Linked DNA regions of Homo sapiens: region 2 is linked to region 1. Evidence: fine-mapped expression QTL. A gene starts in region 1. The other region holds a variant in brackets. All regions are shown on one strand. Distances are from middle to middle.

Region 1 (15,929 bases):
AATTTTTTTTTTTCTAATTCTGGCCTGAAGTCATTTCTAGGATTCCTTTAGAAATGGCTTTCTCTAATTTTCAAAATATTGATGATGTCATTTCTTTCTTTAAAGATCTTTGACGATAACCTCATACAGCTGACCTTTCAACAACACAGGTTGGAAATGAACAAGTTGACTTATATACATACAGTTTTTTCAATAAATATGTTGGAAATTTTTTTGGAGATTTGTGACAATTTGAAAAAACTTGCAGATGAATCATGTAGTCTTGAAACATCAAAAAAAGGAAAAGAAAAAATTAGGTATATTATGAATGCATAAAACATATATAGTCTATTTTATCATTTAGTATTATAAAATATAGAGAAATTATAAGAAGTTAAAGTGTATCAAAACTTAGTAAACACAGACACATATGGTGCCACTTGAGGTGGTACAAGAAATTTAAACAAATGTAAAGATGCAGTATGAATCATAGCTGTATAAAATTAATTGTAGTACATACTGTAATAATTTCCTGTTGCTATTATGAATTTCCACTTAAAATGCTGTGGACACTAATCATCTCTGCATGTATTGGAGTAAAATGTAATCTCTTGTTCTTGTGTATTTTTCATCATGTTTAGTACAATACCATAAACCTTGAATAACACCATGGGACCCATGTGAAGTGCCACTAGTGATGCTAGAAGTGCTCCCAAGAAGCCAAGAAGTCATGCCATTACAAGAAGTTAAATTACCTGGTACACACCCTAGATGGGTCTGCAGCTGCAGTTACCCATCATTTCAGACAGACACCTTATAAACAGGTAACATAAACACAGTATCGGTAAATGCAGTACTGTAAATGTATTTTTTCTTCCTTAGGAATTTATTTTCCTTTAGCTTATTGTAAGAATATAGTATGTAATGCATATAACAAACAACGTGTTAACTGACTTTACAGTAGGCTATTAGTAGTTAAATTTTGGGGAAGTCAAAACTTATACTCAGATTTTCAATTGTGCAAGGGGTTGGCACCCTTAACCCCATGTTGCTCAAGGGTCAATTGTACTGCCCTCTTATTGTCTTTGAGCATTCTTTTATTTCACCTCTCATTATGCATTATCTTTCAAAAATACATTTGCGTAGAACAACACAACCAGGTTCTTCTTGGCTGAGATTTAGCCATCTTATGCAACCAATAAAAGTGACTCCAGATAAAAGCAGACAAAAAACTTAACAGATGTAAACAGGAATCCTACAGCAGCCCTAAGAGTCCACAGTTCATATAATTTTAGTAAATCTTGCATGCTTTGGTGACTTTTTCAATTTCTATATCCTCATGAATAATTTTTTCAAAGTGCAGACTAACTGGATAAATGCTGGGGAAGGAAAATGAATTAAAACTAACATAATGCTCTAGATCCTAGCTATACAAACAAACTGGGATTCCCAACTAGTACTATCAGCACTACCTGGGAGCTCTTCACAAATGAAAATCCTAAGTGCCACCCTAGACCTACAGAACCAGATCTCCAAGTGATTCACATATATTAGTTAGTGAAACACTACCAAATCCATATGTCACTGAATCCTCAAAACAACCCTGTGAAATATGACTATACCTATTTCACAAATGAGGAAGCCTAAGCTCAGGAAGTTAAATGACTTACCCAAAGTCAAAGCCATCAATATTGGGAGATGCGATTCAAATTCAAATTTACCTTTAAAAATGTCTTTCTACAATGTATTGTCTCTCACAGAAAAGGTCACGTATTATCTAATAGAAATATGATGCAAGCCACGTATGCAATTTCAAATTTTCTATTAGCCACATTAATAATAAAAAGAGGCAGGGCATGGTGCCTCACATCTGTAATCCTAGCACTTTGTGGGTAGTGACACAGGAGGATGGCTTGAGCCTAGGAGTTATAGACCAGCCTGGGCAAGATGGTGAGACCCCCATTTCTACAAAAATAATAATAGAAAGAAACAGGTAAAATTAATTTCAATAATATATTTTATTTAATCCAACGTTTCTACATTACTGCTTCAGTATGTTTCAATATAAATTGTTAATGTAATATTTTATGTTCTTGGGTAAGCGTATGCATACTTCTTTGAAATCCAGTGTGTATTTTACACTTACAGCACAACTTAATTCAGACTGGATACATGTCAAGTGCTCAATAACTCCATGTGGCTAGTGGCTACTTTACTGGGCAATGCTGGTCTAGAATGTCTTGCATATTAATCTTGTTAAATACAAAACTGACAAGTCACTACAGGAATTGTTTAATAGAGACAATGAATTCAATGTTAATTTACCTAGACTTTTGCCGAAGACACATTAAAAAAGAAAACTGCATATTCTGTTATAATCAAAGTTAATGGGTTTAGGTAGCCCCAATTCTGCCAAACTGACCCATCACCTATTAACTCTCAGAATTTATACAGTTGACCCTTGAACAATGTGAGGAGTTAAGAATGTCTACACCCTGCGCAGTCAAAATTCCATGTAAACTTTTGAGTTTCCAAAAACTTAACTACTAATAGTCTACTATTGCCTGGAAGCTTTACTGATAACATAAACAGTGGATTAATATATGTTTTGTATGTTGTATTATATATTGTTTTCTTGCAATAAACTAAAAAAAAGAAAACATTATTTAAAAAATCGTAAGGAGGCCAGGTGCGGTGGCTCACGCCTGTAATCTTAGCACTTTGGGAAGCTGAGGCAGGAAGATCATGAGGTCAAGAGATCAATACCATCCTGGCCAACATGGTGAAACCCCGTCTCTACTAAAAATACAAAAATTAGCTGGGCATGGTGGCGCACACCTGTAGTCCCAGCTAATTGGGAGGCTGAGGCAGGAGAATCTCTTGAATCTGGGAGGTGGAGGTTGCAGTGAGCCAAGATCGCACCACTGCACTCCAGCCTAATGACAGAGCAAGACTCCATCTCAAAAAAAAAAAAAATCATAAGGAAGAAAAATATGTTTACATTCATTAAGTAGAAATGGATCATCATAAAGGCCTTCATCTTTTTCAGGAGGACGAGAAAGAAACATTGGTTTTGCTCTCTCAGGGGTGGCAGGGGCAGAAAAAAAAAGTATTGTATAAGTGGAACTACACGGTTCAAACCTTTGTTCAATGGTCAACTATAATTTCAACTGGGCACAAAATAGGGCATACATGTAATACTTATAACAATCATGTGAAGAAGCCCTCAGAAAACTCCCACATTATTTGAAACCAAAGTTTTTTTAAAGTTGGAGGAGAAGGGATGCTTTTATTTTAACCAATAGGGGGATGTAAAACAGAACAGTATGATTTCAACTACAGGCCAGAATTAATTTGCCAAACATAAATAACTCAAACATACATAATTCCTACTGGAATGAATGACCTGTAAATTTTACACCAAACTTAATATGATGATGTATGAAGAAGGTAACATAAAAAAAAGAAAAAGTCTAAAACCAAATTAGATACTTTGCCCCTAACAATTCTGGAGGAAAAAAACAGTGACAGGTAAAACTTAAAAATACACAAAGGGGTTTAGGGATTATCAATGAATTTAAATCTTGACCCATTCAAATAAGTGAAAAATAAATACAACTAAAAATGAAGTAATATTGTACCATTTATAATTTGTAACAACTCAAAATACTCATACTCCCACTTTTCAAGTCAGTCACAAGATCAAAGTCAAGAGTTTTTTTCAGGTAATAGATTCAAGCAAGCGATTATCTTTAATCAAAGAAAAAGATGAGCATATAACATCAATATAAATACATATAAAAACAAAGACAAATATCAATTATAAATATTTGAAGACTTACTGTATTTTTCTAATTATTAACAGCTAATGTTTAATAAGATTTTTGCCATTTATTCAAAATACACAAAACAGTAAATGTTCTACATGAAATCACTCAGTGACAGAAAGAAAAAATACTTGAAATGTTCCAACTTTTGGTACACAACTCAAAAAAAATTATATATACATAAAAGGAGTAGATAAATCAGGTGTGAGTTAGCAGACACATCTTAGTATTTTTTATAAACCAGTCACAAATTGAGAGATGTAACTAAATGCCCTAATGTCTCAATTTTTAGCCCTCATCATCTCCTGCTAAAAATTAGCTAAGAAAAAGCATAGGTCATACTTGGAAACTTCAGACAAAACTCATTTCAACTAAATGGGGTCTGATACTTTAAAGAATTATTTCCCTTTAAGACGTTACTATGTGGCAGTCTACTTACTGCCTTCACAATCTTTATACTAGCCCATTAAACCCTTTAATTTTTCTCAAAACAACAAAAAAGTGAGCTTTGCATTTTATTTCAAAACATGAGATGTAAAAGTGAACGAATATTGTCTTTTAATCATATCACACACAGATGTTTCTTAGCCAGCAACCATTTCATAAATAAGAAAGCTCTTTGGCAAATTATCTGTGTGACCTTGGTCAAGTCATAACCCCCAGTCTTTTGTTATCTCATCCTACTCTATAATTCTGTAATTCTAAGTTCTAAATGCTTTAATTAGCAGTCCGTTAACAACATTTTGGATTTGAATTAACCCAAAAGGTAACACGCCATGAAAACTAAAGATAGTCCGTAAGTAAGCACAGGTGGTTGTAGCCAAGTGTTACATAAATTAGTTTCTATATCCACAAAGATGTTGTTTCACAAATTCAGATTCCTCAGGCACAAGGCAACCAAGAGAATGGAAAAGGCTCAGTACCTTCTATTACTAACACGGGAGAAAAATACGCATTCGAATTCCCAACTGTCAGTGCTGTTAGATGTTTCCTGGTAGTATATGGTTAACATATAAAATAATATTCTTTAAAAAGATCGATATTGTGAAAACAAAAGATTTAATATCCTTTTCTTCTTTTGACTCAAAATATCGTTTTGGATCCTTTAAAAAAAAAAGTCTGTTCCTTTCCTCTGACAAGTTAGGTTGGTGGAGACTGAAACAAAACACTTTGTAAGTTGACATCTCCTTTTAAAAGAAGTTATTTCTTTTTTCTTCTCTTGTCTAAAAGACCAGCTATTTGGAGAGAGTTTTCCTGATAATTATAATTCTACCAAGTTCTGAACAACCAGCGAAGAAAAAAAATATTTAAATGTATTTCCAGTCTGCCCACATGATACACTGGCTCATTTGAGACATAAATTCTAAATGAAAGATTGGGCTGAACAACATCCTCCACTTTAAGATATACAAGGCACCAAAACAAACACATCCAAAATCTATTTTTAGAGTGGTGTTCACTCTTCCGGTTTTCTCTTTAAAACGAGATTTAGTTGACCTATTTTCATGTGTTTTTAGGGCACCCAGACACTCTATACAAACAATATTTGCTAATCATAAAACAGCAAAGCCAAAATCACAAATCCTGTTATCTGTGTGGGACATTTTCTCCACGTGTCCTTACGTGCCATGTCTTTGAAAAGTCTAAATATAGATTCACTGACTAAAATGTCCTAAGTCTTCCAAATTCTATAATTATATACTGGATTGAATGCCAATATTATACGTTCACATCCCATTTGAAAAGTACACACACGAGGTGGGGGGGATGTGCCCACTACCTGAAATGCCAATCATACAAAGAACAAAGCGTACCCTATCATCTTTGGGCTTTCTTCTCTCCTCAGTTCTACACTGTTTCGATATTACAAAAATATTAAACAAAATGTTCAAAACTTGAGAAATAAGTGCTCACTAAAATGGCACTTAGAGAAAATAAATTAAAACATATACCAATATGATTAACGAGAAAAGATTCTAGTTGCCAGGATGTGTGTGTAAACTTACAGTCCTGTAGGTTTTACCTGTGGAGAGGACGGTTCCGTCTCCACTCTTAAAACAATTTTACATTCTTTAGAAGCCTTAGCAAAATAAATAGCGACAACAATGGAAGACCCACACTCCTTCAGACGGGATGGAGGGTAGGAAGAGAACTCCCCACCCAACAATCAGAACAAAGCAACAGCCTCAGCTTTTAAGATGCAGAGGGTTTGGAGGCTCAAGGGATATTCTGAGATCTCTTAATTGTTCCGATGCTTCAACAGCCGTCAAAAACAACTAAGAATATGCAGCGCTGGGCTTCACTAGGACAAGGTGCAGGGATTGCTCTCTTCGTTTTAGGCAAGACCGAGACACTGAGCAGGAGAAAAAAAAGGAGGAAGAGCGAGAGAAGAGAAAGCAGCAGCCAGAGACACTCCGGGAAAAGGCAAAAATGCAGACTGTACGCCCTGGCTTCGATCTGACCCAAGGCCCAAACTGTCTGACCCCACACGGGAAAACATGGAGCAGGCTACCGCCGAAAAACCATCGCCGCCCCTACACCTCGAGGCCAGAAGGTCCCCGGGTAAAGGCCTAAAACCACGGCCCAGAGGGGAGGAGAGGGACCCGCCTGCCACCCGAGGCAGCGAAGCGGGCTCAGGCGGAAGAGGCTGCGCAGTAATGGCCGCTGCTCCGCCCCTCGCACCCGGACCGAGACCAGCTCCGGCCGTCACCCAGGGCAGGGGCTGCGGCGCCCTCGGGCAGCGCAGGGGCTGTCACGGTCGTCTTGCCTGCCCCAGCAGCCAAGGCGGGGGTGGCGGAAAGGGCTGAACTGTCCCATCCCGCCTCTGCGCGGACAGCCGGGGCCGCGCCAGCCCAAGGGCGTCCATCTACGTACCGGCCCCTGACCCCGCCGCCGCCCCTCTCAGGCCCCGAGCGCAAGGCCGACCCGGAGTACGTTGCGGCTGGAGGTGACACCGCGAGCTATGCCTCCTCTCCCCGAGTGAGGATCCTAGAGTGGCCGGCGTTCACCCTGCTCCCCCGAGAGGGCCTCGCTCCGACTCCCACCTCTCCGGCCACAGCTGCGGCCACCTCGCAGTCTTTTCTCTCTGGCCTCGGAGCCCGCAGCTGCCGGGAACGCGCGCGGCCGTCACGTGACCACCCGGCGCGTCGCGGAGGAGGGGCCGCGACGCGCCGCGCACCCGCACCCGCACCGGCGAGCTAACTCCGGCGCCTCATCGTTCTGCCCCTGTCTCGCGCCGCTGTCTGCCGGTACTCTCTTGCCTGTGGGGAGCGGCGACTTCGCTGCTTGCATTCTTCTGGCTTCTTTAGAGTGTGCTTGCTTTGTATTAGGGCCCAGAGGCTCTGAAAGAGTGCAGTTCCAACAGAAAGAGATTTGGGGTGGAGGAAGTAAAACGTGTGTAGGACCAGCAGGTGGTGCTGCTCAAAAATCCAGCTTTGCTATCCTGAGGAAGCTCTGGGGCGCCTAGCTGAGTTTCGGCTTAAAGATCCCTTAGCAAAAGTACTGCTTGTTCCCTTTCAAGAAAAAAAATGGGGAGGGGGGGGACGGAGGGGAGAGAGTACTGTAGGACTTTCCAATTTGTTCTCCTTTTTAATGGTTGAGCAATTTAATCGGGGAAAAAATGAGTATTAGTTTTCTTTTGAAACCCCACCCTTTTTTTAAAAAAAACAGAATAGTGCCTGAGAAACTGAAGAAATTAATCTGCATGATAATCTAAAATTAAAGAGGTTATTTTGATCGCAAGCCTGTGGTTTTAAACATCAGAACTCTAGCAGTAATTCACCATTTTAGCATGTACATTTCCTTTTTCAGAACTGATTAAATTTTCCTAATTTGTAGGAAAATGAAGAGGGTGGAAGAGCAGACCTTTTATCTTTAGAAGAGTATGTATTTCAACATTCTATGACAGCGTCTTCTCATTTGCATTAGTGTTGCATTTTGGGATTTCATTAACTGTTTGATTCAGGATTGGAAGTTTTCAGTGTCCTTATAGGTATAGAAATGTATATGTTTTCTGTTATTCCTCTGAAATCAGTTTATTTCAGGGTTCTCATTCATATATATCAATATGTAACCCAATCTCTTGAAGGGTGCATCTAGTTCAGTGATGCTTGCGCGTGTATGCAATACTGTTCCATACATGTAGAAATATTGAAGTGTATATCCTTTAACTTTAAGCTTAGTTTTCTATCTTTATCTTCTTATTAGCCACTCAGTTTTGTCCCTCTATCCTACACAGCCCATGAACAGAGAATAGCTAAAATTTGATATGTACTCGAAGATTCCAGCTTGAAGAGGTAATGCTAATATTAACTAACAATGTGCCAGGTGTTGCTCTAAGTGCTTTATTCATATATACCCACTTAATTCTCATAATAAACTATGAGGTAGGCACTATTATTATTCCCATTTTACAGAGAGAGAGACACACACAGCTGAGATTTGAATCCAGGCACAGACTGTAAGATGTCAGCTAGTTCAACCCCTTCTCACTCATACCCAAGGTCTTTGTATTTCAGTAAATGGTTGCATCTTTCCTTGTTCAAACCCACCTTTAACTCCTCTCTTTTATGTCTTATATGCATTTGGCATATAACCTGTTGGCTCTTCCTTCAAAGTATATCCAACTACTTACCACCTCCGCTACAATCTGCATCATCTCTTGTTTGGATTATAGTGTTACGGTAGACCAGGAACTAGTCTTTTGACTCTATCCTTAATACAGAATCCTAAATAAATCTACTTAAAAAGAAGTGAGATCGTACCACTCCTTTGCTCAAAGTCTCCTGTGGCTTCCCAACACAAGTAAAAACCAAAGTCCTAACGATGGCTTTAAAATCCTCCCCTCATTACCTCTTTGACCCCACAGACTGTTTACCCAGCTTTGTATTCCCAGAAAGCTCTCCACAAGCTGCCAACCTCATAGTCTTTGCAGTTGTGGTTTCCTCTGCTTAGAACACTCTTCCCCATCATGCTCCCTCCATATGTGCTCAGATGTCCAACTCTTCAGTCAGTCCCTCTACTTGTCAGCATATTTTAAGTCATGATGTTTCCATTCCCAATATTTCATATTTCCTCCTTTACTTTTTAATACTTATCACAGTGTAATGGATAATTTATTTTACTTACTAATCTTCATCATATTTCTCATCACATTAGGACGCAAGACACAGGAGGCCAGGAATGTGTGTTCTGTTTTGTATCTCAACTGCCAGGAATAGTGCCTGACACACTTAAAGAGGTTCTCTGTAAATATGTGTTACATGAATGAGTAAATGAATGAATGAATGAATGAATACACACATGGCCGGGCAGTAGCTCACGCCTGTAATCCCAGGACTTTAGGAGGCCGAAGTGGGCGGATCACGAGGTCAGTAGATCAAGACCACCGTGGCTAACACAGTGAAACCCTGTCTCTACTAAAAACACAAAAAAATTAGCTGGGCATGGTGGCACGCGCCTGTAATCCCAGCTACTCGGGAGGCTGAGGCAGGAGAATCGCTTGAACCTGGGAGGCGGAAGTTGCCCGAGATCGTGTCACTGCACTCCAGCCTGCACTGCAACAGAGCAAGACTCCGTCTCAAAAAAACCCCAAAAACCACATTTGTGTATGTGAGTGTGTATATATATCCCCATTTATATATATATATGAATATATATATATCTCCATTTATATATATATATGAATATATCCCCATTTGTATATATATATGAATAAAAGTGAACTTCTCATTTTTCAGTAGTTGCATATGAAAAGCAGAATTGAATGCATGGAATACTATACACCCTACCTCCATCAGCCACTTGAAAGAAAGATAGAAGTTTATATCTTTGAATAACACAGGACAGCACCTCTCAACATTGTCAGAGTGCTGGTTTCCAGTAATTAAGAGTAACTGGTTTCCAGTAATTTTAAGTACCAAAACTTCAAATTATTTGCTTAAATAAATCAGAGCCTAACAGTTTCAATGTATTTCTGTAATAATGTTACTGTCACTGGGATTCCATTTTGCTTCATTGAATCAAAGGTAAAGAAGTTGCAGCTGACTGCTAGGAATTACCCAGTTGCCTGTTTGCTTATAGCTTATTGTCTATTTCCCACAACTTACAAAATACTTTGCTGAATACCACACATCTCCAGGCACCTACTCTTCTCCATTTATCCTTCCAACACTCAAAAATTGTCCAATGTTATTTGTTTTACTTAAGGATCAAAGCATTTTTTTTTGTTTACTTAATATCTGAAGACATCCATGAAAATGCATGAGAAAATGATGTGTTACAATAGAATGTACGTTGAAACCACTCGTGGCTAGTTTAGGGCGGCGGTGTTCCAAGTGTTATCTAGTGACCCATAGGGGTCCTTTGACTCTTGCAGAGTGTCTGAGGGAAAATTGTTCTTATAATAATACTAAGACTCTAGTTGCTTTGTTTACTTGCACTCTCAAATGTACAGTGGAGTTTTCCAGAAGCTACATGGTATGTGATGTAGCAATAGATTGATTATAGAAGCAGATATGAGAATTTGACTATATCTATTAAACCAGTCATTAAAACGATGTAAAAAAAAAAAAAAAGTAAAACTGCACTCTTCTTTCATTCAGTTAGCTTTGTTTTGGAAAATGTAGTGTTTTTTTTTTTAATAAAGTATGTTAATACAATGAGTCATTTTTAAATGAATTAGTATATATTGTAAACCATTCTCAATTTCAACTTTTAATTTGGTAAATATTGATTAGCTCATAAAAGTTTTTTGGGGTCTTCTATAAATTAGCACTGTCAAAGGGTCCTGAGACCAAATAAGAATGCTTGTCTGGGGCTATTTTGCTTACCAACTCTAAGTTAAATTTCTTCCCTTTTCACATGCCGGCAACCATCTGATAGCTGTGGACACAACTTTCTCATATGCCTGGAAACAGAACAAACCAGATTCAGGAATGTACCAGTCATTATAGCTAGCAGATGAATGGAAATCAAACCAAGAGGAAGCTTTGGAAAGCAAACTTTGTTTATTTTAATTAAAAACTTTGTTTCCAGAGCTGATACATAGGTTGGTTTCTGTCCTATCATTTGATGTTCTACTTACAGTAATCAAACAGTATATTATTTTCTAGTAGAACTCCTTTGCAAATAATAGTACACTAGCCAGTTTAGCTTGTGTTTTTCTTTTACCTACTGTGATTATCAATGCTTTCTCTTCTAATGGTTCTTAATGTTCCTGCGTTGCCCACAGACATTACAACTGAATTAGGATAATGTATGGCTAGAAAATAGCCCCAAGAGTCACTGAGTTAAACTTTATAGTTTGACTATAAAGTCAACGATGCATTTATTTCCTAACCTGGTTGTATGTATATAATATGTATTTATTAATTTTTAGATGTCTTATATTGACAGTAGTAGCTCTGATGTCTCCAAAGTCCATGCTTGTTTCATTAAATGACATAACCTTTCATTGACCATAGTATTAAAAGATAAGAATAAATGCTGTATTTTAACAGTGGAGGTTTTTTAAGCTAGCTTATTATTTTAACAAAATAGTCCCTTAAACAATGTACTCCATCACATAAAGGAAATTGCTTAAGGTCATCAAGGCAGCAACTATGTTTTGCAATGTCACATTTTCCTGTATCAGTTTAATATAATTATAACCTAAAAGTTTGAAGTATTTTCACAGAAGTTTGTCAAGCAAGATTCTCTTTGGAAAACAAAAACCACCTTAAGTATTTCAGACAGAGACTCTAATGTAGTGAAATGGTGGTGAAAGTGTTAGAAAACTGGAGGAACCAAAAAAGAAAGATGAAGATACCTTGAAATCAGTAACTGCAGAAAGTCACTGGCTCATCTAAGTTTGGAGGAGCAAAGGGTGTTCTGGGAGCTCCTGGAGGCTGCTAGAGCACTTTTTATGAACTGCTATAATAGGAAGTCAGGGTCCCATATGCACACTGAGCCTGCAGAAGTCCAGGAACTCACAGCCATAAGCAGTCACCTACCACTCCAATGTCAGAACCAGAAACGAATAGGAAAGAAATCACCTTCTCCTTTCCACTTACTTTTTCCATGTGATTGCCTTCAATTGACAAAACTAAACAAGAAACCATCTGTCAAAGGATTCTCAAAAACAACTTTTTCCAGCTCCATTAGATATAAAGCAGAACATAGAAATGCCATTGTGAGACTGGGCATCAAATATGTGGTTCAAAAAGTTTGAAAAATGATTTATTATATTGCTCAAGGTGATATATATTCTGAAATATGGAAAGAACTAGAATAATTGATTGCCTATTATTTTCTAAGCTCTTAACAAACCATTTTTTTCACCATAATGATCCAGGTCCACGAATATCTTTTCATCATTGTTCTATGAGACAACTGCAACTCATTGAGGTTACCAGTGTTCACAGGTAGCCCAGAGTAGAACCACGGTGAAGAGAGAGAGACCAGCTGAGGGGAATATGGACATGCATCAGTAAAGGTTCAGTAAAGACACGATGAGTCCTAGGATCAGGAGCGCCATAAACTAATTCGGGCATGCTACTTACTGTATCCAAATGTCAATTTTTTTATATGTAGCCATAAAACGGGTAAATTATCACCTCTATTCAGAGATTTGATAATGAAATTTAAGATAAAGTACTTGGCCAAGGTTGAAAAACCTTAGCTATTACAATTACATTATTTGACCTGTCTCAAATTCTGAGCTAGTTCCGCCAGAGCCTCTCATTCAGTCTACTAGAAAGCATAAGAATAAATACCTATAATTTCATAACTTCTATTGTCTTTTGGCAAAAACTGATAAATTATTTTCTTTTTCTGTTTTATAGAGTCTATATATATATATTTTTATACTTTAAGTTCTAGGGTGCATGTGCACAACGTGCAGGTTTGTTATATAGGTATACATGTGCCATGTTGGTTTGTTGCACCCATTAACTCGTCATTTACATTAGGTATTTCTCCTAATGCTATCCCTCCCCCAACCACCACCCTACAACAGGGCCCAGTGTGTGATGTTCCCTACCCTGTGTCCAAGTGTTCTCATTGTTCAATTCCCACCTATGAGTGAGAACATGCGGTGTTTGGTTTTCTGTCCTTGTGCTAGTTTGCTCAGAATGATGGTTTCCAGCTTCATCCATGGCCCTGCAAAGGACATGAACTCATCCTTTTTTAGGGCTGCACAGTATTCCATGGTGTATATGTGCCACATTTACTTAATGCAGACTATCATTGATGGACATTTGGGTTGGTTCCAAGTCTTTGCTATTGTGAACAGTGCTGCAGTGAACATACGTGTGCATGTCTTTATAGTAGCATGATTTATCATCCTTTGGGTATACACCCAGTAATGGGATCGCTGGGTCAAATGGTATTTCTAGTTCTAGATCCTTGAGGAATCGCCACACTCTCTTCCACAATGGTTGAACTAGTTTACACCCCACTGACAGTGTAAAAGCATTCCTATTTCTCCACATCTTCTCCAGCATCTATTGTTTCCTAAATTTTTAATGATCACCATTCTAACTGGTGTGAGATGGTATCTCATTGTGGTTTTGATATGCATTTCTCTGATGACAAGCAATGACGAGCATTTTTTCATGTGTCTGTTGGCTGAATAAATCCCTTCTTTTGAGAAGTGTCTGTTCATATCCTTTGCCCACTTTTTGATGGGGTTGTTTATTTGTTTCTTGTAAATTTGTTTAAGTGCCTTATAGATTCTGGATATTAGCCCTTTGTCAGATGAGTAGATTGCAAAAATTTTCTCCCATTCTGTAGGTTGCCTGTTCACTCTGATGGTAGTTTCTTTTGCTGTGCAGAAGCTCTTTAATTAGATCCCATTTGTCTATTTTGGCTTTTGTTGCCATTGCTTTTGGTGTTTTAGTCATGAAGTCCTTGTCCATGCCTGTGTCCTGAATGGTATTGCCTAGGTTTCTTCTACGGTTTCTATGGTTTTAGGCCTAACAGTTAAGTCTTTAATCCATCTTGAATTAATTTTTTGTATAAGGTGTAAGGAAGGAATCCAGTTTTAGCTTTCTATATATGTCTAGCCAGTTTTCCCAACACCGTTTATTAAATAGGGAATCTTTTCCCCATTTCTTGTTTTTGTCAGGTTTGTCAAAGATCAGATGGTTGTAGATGTGTGGTGTTATTTCTGAGGGCTCTTTTCTGTTCCAATGGTCTATATCTCTGTCGACTGTATATACTGTAGCCTTGTACTATAGTTTGAAGTCAGGTATGTGATGCCTCCAGCTTTGTTCTTTTTGCTTAGGATTGTCTTGGCAATGCCAGCTCTTTTTTGGTTCCATGTGAATTTTAAAGTAGTTTTTTCCAATTCTGTGAAGAAAGTCATTGGTAGCTTCAGGGAGATGGCATTGAATCTATAAATTACCTTGGGCAGTATGGCCATTTTCATGATATTGATTCTTCCTATCCATGAGCATGGAATGTTCTTCCGTTTGTTTGTGTCCTCTTTTATTTCATTGAGCAGTGATCTGTAGTTCTCCTTGAAGAGGTCCTTCATTTCCCTTGTAAGTTGGATTCCTAGGTATTTTACTCTCTTTGTAGCAATTGTGAATGGAAGTTCACTCATGATTTGGCTTTCTGTCTGTTATTGATGTATAGGAATGCTTGTGATTTTTGCACATTGATTTTGTATCCTGAGACTTTGCTGAAGTTGCTTATCAGCTTAAGGAGATTTTGGTCTGAGACGATGGAGTATTCTAAATATACAATCATGCCATCTGCAGACAGGGACAATTTGACTTCCTCTTTTCCTAATTGAATACCCTTTATTTCTTTCTCCTTCCTGATTGCCCTGGCCAGAACTTCCAACACTGTGTTGAATAGGACTGGTGAGAGAGGGCATCCCTGCCTTGTGCCAGTTTTCAAAGGGAATGCTTCCAGTTTTTGCCCATTCTGTATGATATTGGCTGTGGGTTTGTCATAAATAGCTCCTATTATTTTGAGATCTGTTCTATCAATACCTAGTTTATTGAGAGTTTTTAGCATGAAGGGCTGTTGAATTTTGTCAAAGGCCTTTTCTGCATCTATTGAGATAATCATCTGGTTTTTATCATTGGTTCTGTTTATGTGATGGCATTACATTTATTGATCTGGGTATGTTGAACCAGCCTTGCATCCCAGGGATGAAGCCCACTTGATCGTGGTGGATAAGCTTTTTGATGTGCTGCTGGATTCGGTTTGCCAGTATTTTATTGGGGATTTTGCATCGATGTTCATCAGGGTTATTGGTCTAAAGTGCTCTTTTGTTGTGTCTCCACCAGGCTTTGGTATCAGGATGATGCTGGCCTCATAAAATGAGTTAGGGAGGAGTCCCTCTTTTTCTATTGATTGGAATAGTTTCAGAAGGAATGGCACCAGCTCCTTTTTGTAGTTCTGGTAGAATTCGGCTGTGAATCCGTCTGGTCCTGATCTTTTTTTAGTTGGTAGGCTATTAATTATTTCCTCAATTTCAGAGCCTGTTATTGGTCTATTCAGAGATTCAACATCTTCCTGGTTTACTCTTGGGAGGGTGTATGTGTCCAGGAATTTATCGATTTCTTCTAGATTTTCTGGTTTATTTGTGTAGAGGTGTTTATAATATTCTCTGATGGTAGTTTGTATTTTTGTGGGATTGGTGGTGATATCCCCTTTATCATTTTTTATTGTGTCTATTTGATTCTTCTCTCTTTTCTTCATTAGTCTTGCTAGCGGTCTATCCATTTTGTTGATCTTTCCAAAAAACCAGCTCCTGGATTCATTGATTTTTTGAAGGGTTTTTTTGTGTCTCTATCTCCTTCAGTTGTGCTCTGATCTTAGTTATTTCTTACCTTCTGCTAGCTTTTGAATTTGTTTGCTCTTGCTTCTCTAGTTCTTTTAATTGTGATGTTAGGGTATCGATTTTAGATCTTTCCTGCTTTCTCTTGTGAGCATTTACTGCTTTAAATTTCCCTCTACACACTGCTTTAAATGTGGCCCAGAGATTCTGGTATGTTGTGTCTTTGTTCTCATTGGTTTCAAAGAACATCTTTATTTCTGCCTTCATTTCATTATTTACCCAGTAGTCATTCAGGAGCAGATTGTTCAGTTTCCATATAGTTGTGCAGTTTTGAGTGAGTTTCTTCATCC
Region 2 (15,929 bases), 140 kb before region 1:
AAAAGATTAGACGAATGGCTAACTAGAATCAACAGCATAGAGAAGACGATAAATGACCTGATGGAGCTGAAAACTATGGCACGAGAACTTCGTGACACATGCATAAACTTCAGTAGCCGATTTGATCAAGTGGAAGAAAGGCTATCAGTGATTGAAGATCAAATTAATAAAATACAGCGAGAAGACAAGGTTAGAGAAAAAAGAGTAAAAAGAAGTGAACAAATCCTCCAAGAAATATGGGACTATGTGAAAAGACCAAATTTACGTTTGATTACTGTAACTGCGAGTGATGGGGAGAATGGAATCAAGTTGGAAAACACTCTTCAGGATATTATCCAGGAGAACTTCCCCAACCTAGCAAGGCAGGCCAACATTCAAATTCAGGAAATACAGAGAACACCACAAAGATACTCCTCAAGAAGAGCAACCCCAAGACACATAATTGCCAGATTCACCAAGGTTGAAATGAAGGATAGTGTTAAGGGCAGCCAGAGAGAAAGGTCGAGTTACCCACAAAGGGAAGCCCATCAGACTAACAGCGGATCTCTCGGCAGAAATCCTACAAACCAGAAGAGAGTACAGCCAATATTCAACATTCTTTTTTTTTTTTTTTTTTTTTTTTGAGATGGAGTCTTGCCCTATCACCCAGGCTGGAGTGCAGTGGTGAGATCTCAGCTCACTGAAAGCTCTGCCTCCTGGGTTCACACCATTCTCCTTCCTCAGCCTCCTGAGTAGCTGGAACTACAGGAACCTGCCACCACGCCTGGCAATTTTTTTTTTTTTTTTTTGTATTTTTAGTAGAGACAGGGTTTCGCTGTGTTAGCCAGGATGGTCTCAATCTCCTGAACTCGTGATCCACCCGCCTTAGCCTCCCAGAGTGCTGGGATTACAGGTGTGAGCCACCACACCTGGCCTTAATATTCTAAAAGAAACGAATTTTCAACCCAGAATTTCATATCCAGCCAAACAAAGCTTCATAAGTGAAGGAGAAATAAAATCCTTTACAGACAAGCAAATGCTGAGAGATTTTGTCACCACCAGGCCTACCTCACAAGAGCTCCTGAAGGAAGCACTAAACATGGGAAGAAACAACCGGTACCAGCCATCGCAAAAACAGGCCATATTGTAAACACCATTGATGCTATGAAGAAACTGCATTAATTGATGGGCAAAGTCACCAGCTAACATCATAATGACAGGGGCAAATTCACACATAACAATATTAACCTTAAATGTAAATGAGCTAAATGCCCCAATTAAAAGACACAAACTGGCAAATTGGATAAAGAGGCAAGATCCATCAGTGTGCTGTATTCAGGAGACCCATCTCATGTGCAGAGATGCACATAGGCTCAAAGTAAAGGGATGGAAGAAGATCTACCAAGCAAATGGAAAGTAAAAAAAGCAGGGGTTGCAATCCTGGTCTCTGATAAAACAGACTTTAAACCAAAAAAGATCAAAAGAGACAAAGAAGGCCATTACATAACGGTAAAGGCATCAATGCAACAAGAAGAGCTAACTATCCTAAATATATATGCACCCAATACAGGAGCACCCAGCTTCATAAAGCAAGTCCTTAGTGACCTACAAAAAGACTTAGACTCCCAAACAATAAGAATGGGAGACTTCGGCACAGTGGCTCTCGCCTGTAATCCCAGCACTTTGGGAGGCCCAGGTGGGCGGATCACGATGTCAAGAGATCAAGACCATCCTGGCTAACACGGTGAAACCGCGTCTCTACTAAAAATACAAAAAATTAGCCGTGCGTGGTGGCGGGCACCTGTAGTCCCAGCTACTCGGAAGGCTGAGGCAGGAGAATGGCATAAACCCGGGAGGCAGAGCTTGCAGTGAGCCGAGATTACGCCACTGCACTCCAGCCTGGGTCACAGAGCGAGACTCCATCTCAAAGAAAAATAATAATAATAATAATAATAATAATAATAATAATGGGAGACTTTAACACCCCACTGTCAATATTAGACAGATCAACAAGACAGAAGGTTAACAAGGATATCCAGGACCTGAACTCAGCTCTGCAACAAGCAGACCTAATAGACATCTACAGAACTCTCCACCCGAAATAAACAGAATATACAATCTTATCAGCACCACATTGCGCTTATTCTAAAACTGACCACATAATTGGAAGTAAGGCACTCCTCAGCAAATGTAAAAGAACAGAAATCACAACAAACTGTCTTTCAGACCACAGTGCAATGAAATTAGAACTCAGAATTAAGAAACTCACTCAAAACCACACAACTACATGGAAACTAAACAACTTGCTCCTGAATGACTACTGGGTACATAACTAAATGAAGGCAGAAATAAAGAGGTTCTTTGAAACCAATGAGAACAAAGATAAAATGTACCAGAATCTCTGGGACACAGTTAAAGCAGTGTGTAGGGGGAAATTTATAGCACTAAATGCCCACAAGAGAAAGCAGGAAAGATCTAAAATTGACACCGTAAAATCACAATTAAAAGAACTAGAGAAGCAAGAACAAACACATTCAAAAGCTAGCAGAAGGCAAGAAATAAAAACTAAGATGAGAGCAGAACTGAAAGAGATAGAGACACAAAAACACACTTCAAAAATTCAACAAATCCAGGAGCTGTTTTTTTGAAAAGATTAACAAAATGGATAGACCACTATCAAGACCAATAAAGAAGAAAATAGAGAAGAATCAAATAGATGCAATAAAAAAATGATAAAGGGGGAATATCACCACCGATCCCACAGAAATACAGACTACCATCAGATAATACTGTAAACACCTCTATGCAAATAAACTAGAAAATCTAGAATAAATGGATAAATTCCTGGATACATACACCCTCCCAAGACTAAACCAGGAAGAAGTTGAATCTCTGAATAGACCAATAACAGCCTCTGAAATTGAGGTAATAATTAATAGCTTACCAACCAAAAAAAAGTCCAGGACCAGATGAATTCACAGCCAAATTCTACCAGAGGTACAAAGAGGAGCTGGTACTGCTCCATCTGAAACTATTCCAATCAATAGAAAAACAAGGAATCCTCCCTAACTTATTTTATGAGGCCAGCATCATCCTGATACCAAAGCCTGGTAGACACATAACAAAAAAAAAGAATTTTAGACCAGTATCACTGATGAACATCGAAGTGAAAATCCTCAATAAAATACTGGCAAACTGAATCCAGCAGCACATCAAAAAGCTTATTCACCATGATCAATTTGGCTTCATTCCTGGGATGCAAGGCTGGTTCAACATATGCAAATCAATAAATGTAATCCATCACATAAACAGAACCAACAACAAAAACCACATGATTATCTCAATAGATGCAGAAAAGGGCTTCCACACAATTCAACAGCACTTCTTGCTAAAAACTCTCAATAAACTAGGTATTGATGGAACGTATCTCAAAATAATAAGAACTATTTACCCACAGCCAATAGCATACTGTATGGGCAAAAACTGGAAGCATTCCCTTTGAAAACTGGCACAAGATAAGGATGCCCTCTCTCACCAATACTATTCAACACAGTGTTGGAAGTTCTGGCCCAGGCAATCAGGCAAGAGAAAGAAATAAAGGATATTCAATTAGGAAATGAGGAAGTCACATTGTACCTGTTTGCAGATGACATGATTGTATATTTAGAAAACCCCATCATCTCAGCCCCAAATCTCCTTAAGCTGATAAGCAACTTCAGTAAGTCTCAGGATACAAAATCAGTGTGCAAAAATCACTCCTATACACCATTAACAGACAAACAGAGAGCCAAAGCATCAGTGAACTCCCATTCACAATTGCTACAAAGAGAATAAAATACCTAGGAATCCTACTTACAAGGGATGTGAAGGAACTCTTCAAGGAGAACTACAAACCACTGCTCAACAAAGTAAATTAGGACACAAACAAATGGAAGAATATTCCATGCTCACGAATAGGAAGAATCAATATCATGAAAATGGCCATACTGCCCAAAGTAATTTATCGATTCAATGCCATTCCCATCAAGCTACCAATGACTTTCTTCACAGAACTGGAAAAAACTACTTTAAAGTTCATATGGAACCAAAAAAGAGCCCTCATTGAGAAGACAATCCTAAGCAAAAAGAACAAAGCTGGAGGCATCATGCTACCTGACTTCAAACTATACTACAAGGCTACAGTAACCAAAACAGCATAGTACTGGTACCAAAACAGATATATAGACCAACGGAACAGAACAGAGGCCTCAGAAATAACACCACATATCTACAACCATCTGATCTTTGACAAACCTGACAAAAATAATAAATAGGGAAAGGGTTCCCTATATAATATATGGTGCTGGGAAAACTGGCTAGCCATATGTAGAAAGCTGAAACTGGATCCCTTCCTCATACTTTATACAAAAATTAATTCAAGATGGATTAGAGACTTAAATGTTAGACCTAAATCCATAAAAACCCTAGAAGAAAACCTAGGCAATACCATTCAGGACATAAGTATGGGCAAGGACTTCACGAGTAAAACACCAAAAGCAATGGCAACAAAAGCCAAAATAGACAAATGGGGTCTAATTAAACTAAAGAGCTTCTGCAAGGCAAAAGAAACTACCATCAGCGTGAACATGCAACCTACAGAATGGGAGAAAATTTTTGCAATCTACCCATCTCGCAAAGGGCTAATAACCAGAATCTACAAAGAACTTAAACAAATTTACAAGAAAAAATCAAACAACCCCATCAAAAAGTCGACAAAGGATATGAACAGACACTTCTCTAAAGAAGACATTTATGCAGCCAACAGACATGTGAAAAAATGCTCATCATCACTGGTCATCAGAGAAATGCAAATCAAAACCACAATGAGATACCATCTCATGCCAGTTAGAATGGCAATCATTAAAAAGTCAGGAAACAACAGATGCTGGAGAGGATATGGAGAAATAGGAAAGCTTTCACATTGTTGGTGGGAGTGTAAATTAGTTCAACCATTGTGGAAGACAGTGTGGAGATTCCTCAAGGATCTAGAACTAGAATTACCATTTGACCCAGCCATCATCCCATTACTGGGTATATACCCAAAGGATTATAAATCATGCTACTATAAAGACACATGCACATGTATGTTTATTGTGTCACTATTCACAATAGCGAAGACTTGGAACCAACCTAAATGTCCATCAATGATAGACTGGATTAAGAAAATGTGGCACATATACACCATGGAATACTATGCAGCCATAAAAAAGGATGAGTTCATGTCATTTGCAGGGACATGGACGAAGCTGGACACCATCATTCTCAGCAAACTATCACAAGGACAGAAAACCAAACACCACATGTTCTCACTCATAGGTGGGAATTGAACAATGAGATCACTTGGACACAAGGCGGGGAACATCACACACTGGGGCCTGTCACGGAGTGGGGGTTGGGGGAGGGATAGCATTAAGAGAAACACGTATTGTAAATGATGAGTTGACGGGTGCAGCAAACCAACATGGCACATGTGTACCTATGTATCAATCCTGCATGTTGTGCACATGTACCCTAGAACTTAGAGTATATTTTAAAACAAAGATATACACTTATGTCAACTCTTTCTTTGTAGCAGTGCCCAGAAATTCAAAGAATTGTTGTTGTTGTTGTTGTTGTTGTTTTTAATATAAGAAACTTGGGTCATTATCATCTCTAGTAAATAGTCTCTGTATTCAAGGACCTCAAACATTTTCTGAAGAACAGTCTTGTTTCCCAAAGGCCTTGAGATAACCAAGAAACCGGGAAGAAGCATGGCAGAGAGGAAATGAATGAGATAGCAGTAACAACTGGTTCATACTCTGTTAGGGTGGGGCTTTAAGACTTACCAATAGGTGAGATCTTGTGTTAGAAAACATTGCCTCTTTATCTTTATAGATCAGGGCTGAAATCGTTATCTTCAACCTTGCTGAGACAACATAATAAAGGCCACGTCACTAGTATTTTCTTCAACAGACCTTGGTCCTACTTCTAAAATTCTCTGGCACTGAAGTGTAAGGAGAATCTATGGATTTGAAGAGATCACTAAAATGGTTTTGATGAATATTATACCAATTACTTTTATAAAATATATGAAAGCAAAACACATTAGGATAATCTGCATTCTGAAATGTTTTCAATGCTTAAATAATTAGATATAAACATTGAAGCCATATAATATAAAATGACTCTTAATTATTCCTTTCCTTCCATTTTCTGATTCCATATTTCTTGATATTTTTCAGGACATAAAAAATTTATTTCTTCTTGTATGGATCTTATATAGCTTGGTATGATTGATACCCATGTGTTATGACAATAATTTCTGTGGCATTAAAAGACAGTAGTCACTGCACCAAGTCAACCTACATTTATTGAGCCTCTGTACACACTATCATTTTGAACATCATAGAAAACTGGTCCTTTGCCTTCAAGTATAAAAACTGGCTACAGACAGAAAATATACATGCTTTGAATCCTTTCCAAAGTTAGGAGGTTGGTGAGCATAAAACAATATTGTAATAGCACAAATTAAATACATACAGGTAAGATATAATCAGAGTGAAAATGACAGACTAGACAGAATGAGTAATAATATATCTGATCACAGACAGTATCCATATCCCAGCCAGCAGATAGAGATTTCACAAGGTCCCATTGTCTTGGGATCCCACAGATAAACTAGGATTCCAGTAGCAGAGTGGCTAGCAACCCTGCCCCACTGGCAGCCCTGCTAAGATAAATGAGGGGGAGTTGGACGTGGGTCTTTCACCTAGCAAAGAGCATAATGTCTAGTTGTTTGACCAATGACAAGGGGTTCCTCACATGGAAAACTTATTTATACTGGAAGACACTCTTGTGGCTCTTATCTGACCTGTGTTTAGTGTATGCCTACCTAACCATCATTCTGGGGCTGAGAGGTCAACTGTGTGTTAGTCCTGACATCCCAGGGAAAACCCAGCCTGCAGTTTGGTTCTTGAGAATGGAAGGAGCAAATTCAAACCACCACCAAAATAGGAAGTTCAAGGATTTTTACTTTCAGAATCTGGGCAAGAAGGGTGCGATGAATCTGGAGGGCAATCTTCCATCCCCTGGCACAAGAGGAGAACATGAAGAGTTAGG[T/C]ATTGAGAAAGAGTGTGTGTGGCAACTAGCAGGATAGACAACGGACTAGGCTGTAGGTTACTAAGTTCACAGGCAAATGCCTATATGGTCTGTTTAAAGGAAGCAGTGGGAAAGCAGGGAGTACAATCTGCTAGCGGGGGAGACATCCAGAAGTTCTTAGCTTTGGCCATTGGCTTGAGCCATTTGGGCATGGTATAGAACTGCAAACTGTTTCAAGGGTGACTAACCCCTGATTCTAGTATGAGGAAGTTAAACTTATACTCAAAATGGATGCCAAGGCAACATAAAATTATAAAAATTCACTACACCCAGGCTTTGACATGCCCCAGTCTCTGATCTAGAAGAAAACAGCTCATCTTTAGTCACACTAATTAAAACCCTGGTGACATTGCCAACCCCAGGAAAAAAAATAAAAATAAAACATCTAATTCAGAAACCCAAAATAATCAGGAGGATGAAGAAATTTCTCTAGATTCACTGAAATGAATAAGAAGATTAGCAATTTCTTTAATAAACTAAGATGTTCAAAAAGATGTTATGCCCAACCATCAGGAAGTAAAAGGCCTCATTTATTTTGACAACTATTTATCAAGCACCTGTATGTGTCAGGCACTGTTCTAAGGTCTTGAGAGACATGACCATGAACAAAACTGCTCAGATACCTTCCCTTGGTGCTTATTTTCTACCAGAAGAGGTACTGAAAACAATACATAAATAAAAGATACAGAATGTCAGATGGTATGTTGGAAAATGAAACAGAAAGAGATAGGGTATGCTGGGGTGAGGATTCCATTTAAAGAGTGATTAGAGAGGACTCCCTCACTGAGAAGAGGATATTTGGGCAAAAACCAGGAGGAGGTGAGGAAGTAAACTCTTTTGGTATCTGTGGAAGAGTGCCCTAGGCCAAGGGTGTCTAATCTTTTGGTTTCCCTGGGCCACACTGGAAGAACTGTCTTGGGCCACAGAAAATACACGAACACTAATGATAGCTGATGAGCTAAAAATAAAAGTCACCAAAAAAAATCTCATAATGTTTTAAGAAAGTTTATGAATTTGTGTTGGGCTGCATTGAAAGTCATCCTGGGCCACATGCAGCCCACGGACCATGGGTTAGACAAGCTTGTTTTAGACAGAGGAAATAGCAAGTTAAAACAACCTGAGACAGCAATGTGCCTAGTGTGTCAGAGGCACAGCAAAGACTCCAGTGTGGCAAAGGGTGAGCAAGAGAGACAGAAATAGAAGCGAAACTTGAAAGGTAATAAGGAACCAAGTTGTGTAGGGCCTTGTAGGATGTTTTAAGGACTTATGCTTGCACCCTGAGTAAAATAGCCATTTCAGGGTTTTAAGCAAAGACATGGCATGATCTCACACAGGGTTTAAAGTGATTACTCTGCCATGTTGATAATTTTTTAAAAAAATCTAAACATATAATTTTTGTCTGCCTCTTAAGCCAGAAGTTTATAAAAATACTATATATCAGTTGAAAAAATAAATGCCTTGTCCTTAGTGTGCAAAAATGTGACTAATTCATCCTCATTTGGGCATGTGGCAAAAAAATGGTACAAGTTGGAACTGACCCATCTATCCTCTGTAACCCTGCCACCCGTACAACCAGTTGTACACACTAAGGAAACAGCTGGTCAGGATTAGGAAGGTAGAACAATAGGAAGGTGTGGGTGGCAGATGCTTCTCATCTCAAGTGCAAGTTCAACTACTGATCTGTCCTCCTTCTCCTACTCAGATGAATACCAGCTTCCTCTCGAGTACATTGATGACATTTTTATCAATAAAAAATAAAACTTCTTTATTTCAATTACTTTCTCTAAAAAATATTGCTTCAGTCATCAGAATAAAATGCAAAATCCCAACTTTGACATCCAAGGCTTCATCAATACAGCTCTGTTCTTTCCCACATTTTTTATCTTTCCTTAACACAGACCACGGGCTTCGGCCCAACTGAACTGCTATTTTCTACTTCTTTGCTCATGCTTTTGCTCCACTTAAAAGGCTTCCTGGCTCCCATTTCCTCTGGTCTAAATCACACCCAAAATGAGGAAACAAAATACATTTGAAAGAGCAAGAACTTAGAATGAGAAGCCCTGAGATACTAATTGTTTGGGATGTTTGTTTGTTTGTTTGTTTGTTTTGAGATGGAGTTTCACTCTTGTTGCCCAGGCTGGAGTGCAATGGCGCCATCTCGGCTCACTGCAATCTCTGCCTCCTGGGTTCAAGCGATTCTCCTGCCTCAGCCTCCTGAGTAGCTGGGACTACAGGCATGCGCCATCACGCCCGGCTGATTTTGTATTTTTAATAGAGACAGGGTTTCTCCATGTTGTTCAGGCTGGTCTCGAACTCCTGACCTCAGGTGATTTACCAGCCACCTTGGCCTCTCAAAGTGCTGGGATTACAGGTGTGAGCCACTGCACCCGGCAGAGATACTAACTGTTAAGTGTGAGTCACATCACTTGAACTTTCTCAGCCTCTTTCCTTATGTGCTACTACCTACCTTGTGGAATTCGTTATACATCAAATAGATGATATAAGTGAAAGAACCCATAGATTGAAAAAAGACACTACACTAGTTTAAATATTTATTCATTAAAAGGGAAAAGGTTGAAAATAATTATAGGTTATGTCAGACAATATTCAGGAATAAGAAGGCATGGTGATAAGTGTTGTCAGGAAAGAGGATGAGGGCTCCTGGAGTCTCTTATCCAATTGTACTTGGTTGTAGGGTGGAAAGAAAGAAATCAGGCCTGCCCCTAACATTTGTGGGGCTTAGGGCAATAGTACAAAAAGAGACCCATAATCTATATGTCACCATCATAGCAACAAAATTGCAAAATATGTGTAAACACTATGGTTTTTATATGACTGAAAGTATGCAAAATACCAAATTTGACTGAATTCAATTACTGTTACACATATCAGGGTGTTTTGTTGATAGACAGGTGATGTGATGAGTAACACAATAAAGATAAATTTAATGAATAAATTATCATACATTTTATAACATTTATTTTTTATATCTTTAGCAAAACCACTAATGATGTGCTATACATGTAAAATACACACAAATTTTTGAAGACTCACTACCAATAAATGAGAATGTAAATTATCTCATTAATCACTTCTGTATTGTTTAGATATTGATATAATTTTTTGTATATATTACATTAAATACAATATATTATTTAAATTATATATATATAGCCCTCATTTACTTTCATATTTTAGATAAAACTACTCAGCAAGCAGTCTAAAGCCAATTTTAGCTATTACCCCTTCTCATTTTATTTCTGAGTCAGGACACATAATAGAACATTTCTTGTAATCATTGTTCTTTCCATCCTTTTTTTGACTGGACATTAGAACATGTCAGGGGCGAGGGCTGTAGCTCAAGAACCTGCATAGGCCTAGGTTCAGTTGAAGTTCACCATTGGCTATGCTGTCTTCTGATTTCTGCCTTTTTCTTTAGAGTCACTATGAGGCAGATTTTTAGACTGGGCAGGCTGATTGGTGGGGAGGACTCTGAATTGAAATGGGCTCTGTGAACAGGAAGAGAGTGCAGCACCTTGAACCAGGCACAATCTCAGAGACCCCAGAAAATCACACCCAGAAAAATCTTCCTCCGGAAACTTGGAATACTGGAAAGAATTTTCTCCTAAAATAATGTCACATTAGGTAATGGACAGCAGCATTCAAATCACTTCCCATAAAACCATATTGCATGTTTTATGGAAGTCCTTGAGTATATTATAAAATCAGGGACATCAGAGCTCCCAGAAACAATCTTGAAACTGAAGAGGAAGCAGGACGCAGTGGCTCACGCCTGTAATCCCAGCACTTTGGGAGGCCGAGGCAGGGAGTTCAAGACCGGCCTGGCCAAGATGGTGAAACCCTGTCTCTACTAAAAATACAAAAATTAGCTGGGCTTGGTGGCGGGCGCCTGTATCCCAGCTACTCGGGAGGCTGAGGCAAGAGAATCACTGGAACCCAGGAGGTGGAGGTGCAGTGAGCCGAGATTACGCCACTACACTCTAGCCTGGGCAACAGAGCGAGACTCCATCTCAAAAAAAAAAAAAAAAAAAAAGAAAGAAAGAAATTGAAGAGGAATTGTAAATGGCTCATATTCTATCAGACAGAGCCTGATAGAATCATACCACTGGTATGAATTATTGTCTGGTCAACTCAAGCAGAGGAAGTGAGATGGTTTAAATCTGTGTCCTTGTCCAAATCTCATGTCAAATTGTTATCCCCAATATTGGAGGTGGGGCCGGGTGAGACGTGATTGGATCATTGAGGTGGATCCTTCCTGAATGGTTTAGCACCATTCTCTTGGTGCTGTTCTCATGATAGAGTTCTTGAGAGAGATGGTTGTTTAAAAGTGTGTAGCACCACCCCACTGTCTCTCTTCCTCCTGCTCCAGCCATGTAAGATGTGCCTGCTTCCCCACTCACCTTCTGCCATGATTGTAAGTTTTCTGAGGCCTCCACAGAAGCCAAGCAGAAGCTGCTATGTTTCTTGTACAGCCTGCAGAATGGTGAGCCAATTAAACCTCTTTTCTTTATAAATTACCTAGTCTCGGGTATTTATAGCAATGTAAGAATGAACTAATACAGGTAACAAATTCAGATAAGAATGGCTTAAAAATTCTGAATCTTTGTCTTTTTAATATGAATTATTTAGACTGAGGAAATAACCCAAGGATTTAGAACACTCAGGATGTTTGGGCATAGGATAGGGGTTGGGGGTTGATCACAGGGGCGGGTAAAGTAAATTTCCTTCCTGCTAGAAGGAGAGTTTGAAGAAAGGTATTGAGGCATCTGTACAGGGTGTTCCCTTCTCAAGGAACAGGCTGGGAAGCAGGGAGAGTCAGGGTCAGCAGATGCTTCTCAGCATGGCCTGGAGTAGAACAAGCATAACACTGAGTGGGTGAAATGAAAATGGTAACAGGAGAAAAGAAGGCAGGAAACCCTCTTGCTTTTTTTGTCTCCCTCCTCTTCCATTTTACCCCATAACACACACACTCTGTGGGGGAGGTATGTCCTGATAAAGAGTTTAAACACCAGGGTTGTACCCAGGATACAGTGTTGTTCTCATCCACAGAGATAAACAGGTGAGAGGACCTCCATTGTCCTTAAGAAAGCAGTAATGAGATACTTGACAGAAAGCTGATGGTAGAATGCATAAACACCCTCACAGAGGATGACCAAAAACATGTAAAGCTGAGGTGCAAAAAGGCAAGAAGTATTAATAAGCCATGAGGCCAAGCAGCCAAAGATATAACAGATACAGGAAAAAAAAAAGAAAATCAACTTTGTAAAAGAATATTGTTTGGCCAAGTGGGGAGAAACAAATAAACAATATAATTGGTCTTCTAACAGATGGGATGCAACACTCCCCTTTCTGAGCTATTAAATTTGATTTGTAGCTCTAGGCAGGTAGAAATAAAAATGAGAGGAAAAGGATCAGATCTGGAAGTCCTTTAGAACCTCATCCCAATTGGGGTTAAATGTAACAAAAACATTATTATTGGTATCAGGACCCAAATTGATGTGAACTTAGAGAAAGGCAGGGCAGTCTTCCTCCTTAAAATATTTTATATTTTAAAATTCGTGTTATACTGTCTATAACAGTCAAAGTTAGGCTGGGCACAGTGGCTCATGCCTGTAATCCCAGCACTTTGGGAGGCAGAGGCAGGAGGATCATCTGAGGTTGGGAGTTCGAGACCAGCCTGACCAACGTGGAGAAACCCCGTGTCTTCTAAAAATACAAAATTAGCTGGGCATGGTGGCGGGAACCTGTAATCCAAGCTACTCAGGAGGCTGAGGCAGGAGAATCTCTTGAACCCGGGAGGTGGAGGTTGTATTGAGCCGAGATTGTGCCATTGCACTCCAGCCTGGGCAACAAGAGTGAAAAAAAAGGCCAGGCACGGTGGCTCATGCCTGTAATCCCAGCACTTTGGGAGGCCAAGGCGGGTGGATTGCCTGAGGTCAAGAGTTCGAGATTAGTCTGGCCAACATGGTGAAACACTCTCTCTACTAAAAATACAAAAAAATTAGCCAGGCATGGTGGCATGCACCTGTAATCCCAGCTACTCGAGAGACTGAGGCAGGGGAATTGCTTGAACCAAGGAGGTAGAGGTTGCAGTGAGCCGAGATCGTGCCACTGCACTCCAGTCTGAGAGACAGAGCGAGAACCCATCTCAAAAAAAATGAAAACAAAATAAAAAACAAACAAAAAAACAGTCAAAGTTAGCCTGTTCATTACCCTTCTTTCTGTAGGGCAAAGATGCAGAAATACGTTATTTGCCTTTTTTTATTATTTATTCAACCAATATTCGTTGGCCTTTTTCTTCTAGTTAGATCACCATGAAAAATTAGAACAAAACTTTTTTAACCTTTGAACTCATCTTTTTAAATCACATAATATAAAAATAATTCATCTAATTAAACATATTTAAAAGAGATATTTGTATGAGCTAGTAACTTTTGGATATGGAGAATGTTTATTTTGGTTTTGGTTTTGTTTTTGTCCAGTCCAACAGAGCAATTTGGAAAGCTATGCTATAAGCACTTACAAGATCATGTTTTGGAAAAAAAGTTACTTGATAATAGACAAACTGTTTGTGAAAGTGTTACCAGAAAGAGGTCCCAATCCAGACCTCAAGAGAGGGTTCTTGGACCTCGCACAAGAAAGAATTCAGGGCATGCTCGTAGAGTAAAGGGAAAACAAGTTGTTTAAGAAGGCAAAGGAATAAATGAGTGGCTGTTCCATAGGCAGAGCAGTGGCAAGAGCTCCTCAGCTGCCTATACCTATTGTTACTTCTTGATTATATGCTTAAAAAAGGGTGGATTATTCATGAGTTTTCCGGGAAAGGGATGGGCAATTCCTGGAACTAAGGGTTCCTCCCCTTTTAGATCATATAGGGTAACTTCCTGACTGTTGCCATGGCATTTGTAAGCTGTAATGGTGCTAGTGGGAGTGTCTTTTAGCATGCTAATGCGTTATAATTAGCACATAATGAGCAGTGAATATAAGCAGAAGTCACTTTCTCTCCATCTTGGTATTGGTTGGATGTGGTCAGCTTCTTTACCACATGCTGTTTTATCAGCAAGGTCTTTGTGATCTACATATTGTGCTGACCTCTATTGGGATGATCAGGCCCAACACCAGGCCTTGTGGGCTACGAAGTCTGTTGGAGTCAAAGGAATGAGACAAGACAAGTTAAGAATGTGTAAAGTGGGTCCAGGGGGCCAACACTAGTATAGAGGCTGCGAAGGCTTGGAGCTCTAGAAGCCCACACTATTTATTGGTGATCAAACAAAGAAGCAGGTGGTGAGGATGTGAGGATGTGGGGGTAAACAGGTGAGGACGTGAGGACGTGGGGGTAGAAAGGTAGCAGTGCATCAAGCACAGTTGTGACTGTTTAGTATTTTCTTTGACACAAATGTAATATGTTCTGCTACCTGAGATAATGGAGAACATGTTTATGAGCCTGGGAGAGCAAGAAGCAAGGAACGAGCAAGTCTGTGCACATTCCAGTGGCCACAAGGGGTTTTATGCCCTGAGCCTTGGATTCCATCCAAGCCATGAGAGGTTTTATGCCCTGGGCTTAGATTGTAGTGCAGCAGGGCAGCCTTCCACCCTTTGGCACAGAACTTGGTGTTCCAAAGGCCACGAGGGGGTTTAGACCCTGGACCCAGGACGTGTTCCAAGACTCTTTTACATTATGACGGACAAGCTAGTCCCGCCTCAGCTCTTCTACCAACAACCTCCTATCTTATCTTGTGACTAAGAATGCCTTAACCTCCTGGGAATATAGCCCAGCAGGTCAAGATGGATTTGCTTTGGTTCCAACACCTCTAACAAAAGAAGTATAAGATGAAGCAATTAGGCCATCTGGACATCACCAGAAGGAGGTCAGAGTTTCATCATTTTGAATAAAGTATTTTGAATCTGTATTCAAAAGTAAAGTATTTTGAATCTGAATTTTCTACCTGACTGAGATATAACTTTATAACTATAAAAGATTATTTTTAATTTGAAGAAACTATACCTCATTATATAGTCATTGATTTTCATTACACAAAAAATAAAAACATGTATTAAAAATATGTAAATAATTGGCCGGGCGCGGTGGCTCACACTTGTAATCCCAATACTTTGGGAGGATGAGGCGGGCGGATCACGAGGTCAGGAGATCAAGACCATCCTGGCTAACATGGTGAAACCGTGTCTCTACTAAAAATACAAAAATTTAGCCAGGCGTGGTGGTGGACACCTTTAGTCCCAGCTACTTGGGAGGCTGAGGCAGGAGAATGGTGTGAACCCGGGAGGCGGAGCTTGCAGTGAGCCGAGATCGCGCCACAGCACTCCAGCCTGGGTGACAGAGAGAGACTCCGTCTCAAAAAAATAAATAAATAAAAATAAAAATATGTAAATAATTATACCAAATTGCTATTATACCAAATTGCTATTGGTGTGTGTGCGTTTATGTGATGAGGTATGTTCCTTCTTCTTTCCTCTGTTTTCTAAGTTTTTTTTTATATATTTATTTATTTATGAAACAAGAGTCTCACTTGGATGCCCAGGCTGGAGTGCAGTGGCACGATCTTGGCTTGCTGCAACCTCCACCTCCTGGGTTCAAGAGATTCTCCTGCCTCAGCCTCCTGAGTAGCTGGGATTACAGGTATCTGCCACCACACCAAGCTAATTTTTGTATTTTTAGTAGAGATGGGATTTCACTATATTGACCAGGCTGGTCTTGAACTGCTGACTGCAGGCGATCCGCCTGCCTCAGCCTCCCA

What was found.
Region 2: its variant is fine-mapped to the expression of RNF146 in blood mononuclear cells (TOPMed, PIP 0.97).

The regions. Positions count from the first base shown.
Region 1 is chr6:127,257,847-127,273,775 of GRCh38, reverse strand. RNF146 (ring finger protein 146) reads right to left here and starts at 6,912. Exons shown (of 3, transcript NM_001242850.2): 1 at 6,851-6,912. RefSeq lists an enhancer at 6,224-6,283 and silencers at 6,484-6,753, 6,854-6,953.
Region 2 is chr6:127,396,239-127,412,167 of GRCh38, reverse strand. No RefSeq gene overlaps it. Among named protein-coding and RNA genes, the nearest start is that of KIAA0408, 55 kb to the left of the region's middle. RefSeq lists an enhancer at 7,818-7,927 and a silencer at 14,246-14,433. The variant T/C (reference allele first, on the strand shown) is at 7,117.